2 separate regions of the Homo sapiens genome follow, and region 1 is linked to region 2. Evidence: fine-mapped expression QTL. Tissue or cell type: subcutaneous fat. Region 2 holds a variant in brackets; the other region holds the start of a gene. All regions are shown on one strand. Distances are between the middles of the regions.

Region 1 (2,849 bases), 22 kb after region 2:
AAAGAAGCTGGCCACTTGCCTGCAGTCCTAGCTACTCCAGAGGCTGAGGCGGGAGACTCACCTGAGCCCAGGAGTTTGCAACCAGCCTGGGCAACACAGCGAAACTCCCCAACCCTGTTTAAAATAAATAAATAAATAAATAAATAAATAAATAAATAAAAGAAAAAGGAAAAAAAAAAAGCAAAGAACAAAAGGACACACATATACAGACAAACAGGAATGCTAAAATGAATTTACAAATCAATGCCATACTGGTCAGTATCCATTGGACAATAATCATTCCACTGGGACGAACTCATTAGCCTTGATGTTGGCAAAAGTCATTTGCAATACTACAGGCTTTCTATAATTTATAGAGTTGTAAAATAACCTACAGACGAGAAAGGCCACAGTACACTGTAAAATTAAATAAACCTGCAAAAAACGCTAAGCAGGACATCCGGGAACACTGGTCCCTCTTTCTAGTCCCCTTGAAAGTCTCACAAGGCTGAAAAAGGAAAGTAAAATCCTTGTGTAACCCTTCTGCCCAGAAGTACACTGGCACAGATTCTTTAGAGACGAATTTAATCCAGAGTGTGGAGCCTTTATTAAGGAAATAATCCGGTGCAACGTTCTGGGACACGCTCCTGGACTGGGTGGGCTTCTGCACACTCACCCAGCGCACCTCCAATCCCCGGGAGCGCTCGGCACCGCCCACTTCTCTGCGAGTGGCTGCAAGTTGCAGAGCAAACCAGGGGGCGATCTGGAACCCTCTGGGAGTAAAGGGCTAAGCTATAAGCGCAGGGTCGACGGGCAGGGACCGGAAACAAATTCTAGGAACCGAGATCCGCTGAGCAGCAGGGAAGCTGCGCAGCCACCGCGTCCCGCCAGCGCCGCCTCTTTCCCTCCCCGCCCACCGCCCGCCTGGCCCGGCGGGGCGGCGCGAGGACCCAGGGGCGGGGCGACCTTTGCTCCGGCCGTGAGCAGTCCAGGCCAGGCGTGGCCCAGCCGCCCGGCTGCAAGGTGGGGTGTCCCCGCCGCTCGGATCCCCATCTCACCTGCCGCGGGCGAGGTGGCCCCGCCGCTTCCTGCGCTCACCTCGGGTCCCTCCCTCCCGGGCCAGGTTTGGCCGCGGCAGCCGCCCCTGGGCGCCCGCGCCCGGACCCGCGGTTTCGGTCAGACCCGCCCGCGGGCTGGTTTCGATTAGGGCCAGTAGGAGGGCGGAGCGGCCGGGACGCCAGGAGGGAACTAGCCTAAGTGGGGACGGTCCCCGTGCAGGAGACAAAGAGCGTCCCTGGAGCGATCAGGGCTCAGGAGCCCGACCCGGAGCCCGGGGCGTCCGCGCTGACTTCGGGTCCCCGGAGCCTGGGGCACGGCAGGGAGAAGACGACGGCGGAGAAGGCGACAGCGGAGAAGGAAGGCAGGCTGCAGGGGCGCCGTCGGCGCGGCGGGCCGGGATGCGGACGCCGGTGGTGATGACGCTGGGCATGGTGTTGGCGCCCTGCGGGCTCCTGCTCAACCTGACCGGCACCCTGGCGCCCGGCTGGCGGCTGGTGAAGGGCTTCCTGAACCAGCCAGTGGACGTGGAGTTGTACCAGGGCCTGTGGGACATGTGTCGCGAGCAGAGCAGCCGCGAGCGCGAGTGCGGCCAGACGGACCAGTGGGGCTACTTCGAGGCCCAGCCCGTGCTGGTGGCGCGGGCACTCATGGTCACCTCGCTGGCCGCCACGGTCCTGGGGCTTCTGCTGGCGTCGCTGGGCGTGCGCTGCTGGCAGGACGAGCCCAACTTCGTGCTGGCAGGGCTCTCGGGCGTCGTGCTCTTCGTCGCTGGCCTCCTCGGCCTCATCCCGGTGTCCTGGTACAACCACTTCTTGGGGGACCGCGACGTGCTGCCCGCCCCGGCCAGCCCGGTCACGGTGCAGGTCAGCTACAGCCTGGTCCTGGGCTACCTGGGCAGCTGCCTCCTGCTGCTGGGCGGCTTCTCGCTGGCGCTCAGCTTCGCGCCCTGGTGCGACGAGCGTTGTCGCCGCCGCCGCAAGGGACCCTCCGCCGGGCCTCGCCGCAGCAGCGTCAGCACCATCCAAGTGGAGTGGCCCGAGCCCGACCTGGCGCCCGCCATCAAGTACTACAGCGACGGCCAGCACCGACCGCCGCCTGCCCAGCACCGCAAGCCCAAGCCCAAGCCCAAGGTCGGCTTCCCCATGCCGCGGCCGCGGCCCAAGGCCTACACCAACTCGGTGGACGTCCTCGACGGGGAGGGGTGGGAGTCCCAGGACGCTCCCTCGTGCAGCACCCACCCCTGCGACAGCTCGCTGCCCTGCGACTCCGACCTCTAGACGCTTGTAGAGCCTGGGGGGCGCCGGGTGGCAAAGGACTCACCCCCGCACAGGCCCGCCTGGCTTCGAGTTGGAACCCGGACACTTGCCCCTCACTGGTGTGGATGGAAATCTGCCTTTCGTGGGACCAAACAGGACTCCTTGGACGATTAGTTCAGGTTGGGTTTGGTTTTCTTCTTAAAGAGTTTAGTTTTCCTCTCCAGAGGGATCAGGGTCCTCTTAGGGAGTGACGGGCTTTTCATATATTTTTGCTGAAGAATATATGGAAAGGGTGGCATTTGCGTCACGTGGACCAGGGACAGTGCTGAAATCAGCAGTGCTCAGAAACAATTTAACATGTTGAAACGACAATATTCTAAAATACTGATGAATCTTGCATCAATATAATTATTGGGTTTTTTTTCTTTTTCCTGCTGTATAACTCCTTGCCATGCAAACTCTCAAGAGGCCAATATATTCCTGGCCATGTTTGAATGAGCCTCTTAAAATAAACTTAGAGCCATGCAAATGCCAGCAGCTTAATGGATTTCATGG
Region 2 (2,907 bases):
AGGAGTGTACAGAGAGCTGAAGTCATTGGCTCCGTGTTTCTGATTTGTTCTTATGGCATATTCATATCCAAAGAAGCTTCCTCGAGGCCAGCTTCCTTCTCCCCTTCTCTGTCTCTGCTTTAACCAGAAATTCTTTTCCTTCAGCTCAAATTACCAACATTTAAAAGGGAAAGATTCTAGGAGGAATAACCATAAAATAATTTAGGGCTAGCAATGTATGTATTAGTCTGCTTTCACACTGCTGATAAAGACATACCCGAGAATGAACAATTTATAAAGAAAAAGAGGTTTAATGGACTCACAATTTCATGCAGCTGGGGAGGCCTCACAATCATGGCGGAAAGGGAAAGGCTCGTCTTACATAGAGGCAAACAAGAGAGAAAGAGGACCAAGTGAAAGGGGTTTCCTTAAAAAACCAAAAGATATTGATAGACTTACTCACTACCACAAGAACAGTATAGGAGAAACCACTCCCATGATTCAATTATCTCCCACTGGGTTCTTCCCACAACACATGGGAATTATGGGAGCTACAATTCAAGATGAGATTTGAGTGGGGACACAGCCAAACCAATGTACATTGGATGTGTGAATGTATAAAATTCCTTGTGTCCCAAATGGAGGGCTTTGAGAATGTAGGATGCTGAGTGGCAGAAGTTTTCCTCTGCCCTTGGGAAAAGAAGGCAGGCTTCAAAGACAACCTTAGCTTCTTCACAAAAATGCCCTTTGCAGCTCCTGTTTCCATGGGGATGGAAATATGTAACTGAGAGTTGTGATGGGTTGAATTGTGGCCCCCTAGAAAGGTATGCTGAAGTTCCAACTCCCAGTACCACTGAATGTGACTTGACTTGGAAATAGTGTCCTTGCAGATGCAATTAGCTAAGTGAAGATGAAGTCAGACTGGAGTGGTGGGTCCTTAGTCAGATATCACTGGTGTTCTTCTAAGAACAGGGAAATGTGGACCCAGACACTTAAGGAAAAGGCCACGTAATGAAGGAGGCAGAGATTGGAGTTAACGCCGCTGCAAACCAAAAATTGCCTAAGGCCAAAAGAAGCTGGAAGACACAAGGAAGGATCCTCCGTTAGAGGCTCAGAGGAAGCGCGGCCCTGCTGACACCTTGATTTCAGACCATAGCCTGCAGAACTGCAGGGTAATGCATTTCTGTTGTTCTAAGCCACTCTGTGTTTCTCTGCAACAGCAGCCCTAGGAAAAAACACGGATGTTAATCAAAAAAATAAAGAAACTTTGAATGCCAACATTACACAAAAGCAATGTGAGAAGTCAAAGGGAAACAAAAGTCCTAAGCTGTTATACAATATCCTTGTGTTTCTTATTCTAGAGAGATGTTAAAAAGGTACTTATTTTCCACCACCTTAAAGGACCCTATTTATCTGTTCAGATGGAAAAATGGACTTTGGAGATTGTGGGGTCAGCCTCCTGACTCTTTGTTCTAAACTCTGGGAACCAAAAAGGACTCACCTACAGTCCACATAGCCTCAGTTTTTACAAGAAATAAAATTTTAGCTAAACTCAGGACCATACAACAGATCGGTTGTGCTTGAAAAGTTGTGTTTTAGAATATGGTTTTCCATTACATGAATAGCAACAAAACTGCTGAGTCAGAAACTCAAGCAACCTCTCCTAACCTCTATCCC[G/A]GGTTTTGTAAACACTCACTGGATTCTGGGAAATCACGAGACAGCAGTAAGCAGAATTCCATTTTACCATTTATTAGTCATGCAAACTTGGGCAACTTATTTAATCTTTCTGAGTCTTAGTTTCAACATTTGTAAAAAGGACATTTGTAAACTCCTAATCCACAGATTAAGTGTTAGCAGAGTTTGGACCAAGGACCGAAAACTGAAAACAAGAAGTGTCAAGCACCACCACGTTTTCAGGCAGGCTTTTGGCCATTTCCACAAGACTTGCAGAATTATCCCCAAACCCATTTGCCGCCATTGCCGAATGAGCCAATTACTCCTCTCAAGATATAAAAGAGAATATTAATAAGATGTGCTAGAGAGGCTGCCAGGGAGAGTGTCCTTGTGGAGGGCTGCTGGGGTGCCATGCAGTTCACCCAAATGGGAGGAGGCAGGTAAGGAAAGGGGTGCCCTTCTGCAACCCACCTGCTTCAGATCAGAGAGAAACCAGAAAATATTAGAAAATGTTGGAAAACTTGAAGTGTGGAGAGTATGCATGGACTGGTGTCTCATTCATGGTTTTTGTTTTGCTTTGTTTTTTAGAGACAGGGTGTCACTGTGTCACCCAGGCTGGAGTGCAGTGGCATGATCATAGCTCACCGCAGCCTTGAACTTCTGGGCTCAGTCAATCCTCCTACCTCAGTTTCCTGAGGAACAAGGACCACAGGTGTGCACCACCATGCCTGACTAATTAAAAAAAAGTTTTTAGAGAGGGGATCTTGCCATGTTGCCCAGGCTGGTCTCAAACTCCCGGCCTCAAGCGATCCTCCCACCTCATCCTCCCAAAATGCTGGGATTATAGGTGTAAGCCACCATGCCCAGCCTCACTTGTGTTTTATAAAAAGGCTGAAAGCGAGAAGCTGTGGCTGAACTTCCCTGGAGGCAGAGGGAGGAGTGGGCTCTAGGAGGAGCTAGAAGCACCACACCAGGGGCATCACAGCGGCTATGACTTCCATGGGCCAGATGGCCTTGATCTGGGCCAAAGAAAGAAAGAAGGAGACTCCATCTGAGAAGACCATCTTGGGAGGAGGGGAGGTGGCAGCAGTAATCCCCACCTACAGGGAGTCAGAGTGGATAGAAGTTGAAGAGGCCAACCCAGGAATGATCATTGGTTGTGCCCAATGGGGCTGTCCAAGATCCCCACAAGAGGGACCCAGGAGACACACAATCCATATGTGGCCATGTGCCACACTTGTGTGGGCAGATTAG

Direction of the effects. Positions count from the first base shown, and alleles are read on the strand shown. Sizes are in standard deviations (SD) of each study's normalised expression.
In carriers of allele G in region 2, the expression in subcutaneous fat of the gene that starts at base 975 in region 1 tends to be higher than with A alone (moderate effect, 0.50 SD a copy in GTEx).

What was found.
Region 1: CLDN23 starts here. The variant in region 2 is fine-mapped to the expression of CLDN23 in subcutaneous fat (GTEx, PIP above 0.99).

What each region holds. Positions count from the first base shown.
Region 1 is chr8:8,700,963-8,703,811 of GRCh38, forward strand. CLDN23 (claudin 23) reads left to right here and starts at 975. Exons shown (of 1, transcript NM_194284.3): 1 at 975-2,849. The coding sequence starts at 1,437. The coding sequence ends at 2,315. RefSeq lists a silencer at 708-1,327 and an enhancer at 801-1,768.
Region 2 is chr8:8,678,739-8,681,645 of GRCh38, forward strand. No RefSeq gene overlaps it. Among named protein-coding and RNA genes, the nearest start is that of CLDN23, 22 kb to the right of the region's middle. The variant G/A (reference allele first, on the strand shown) is at 1,657.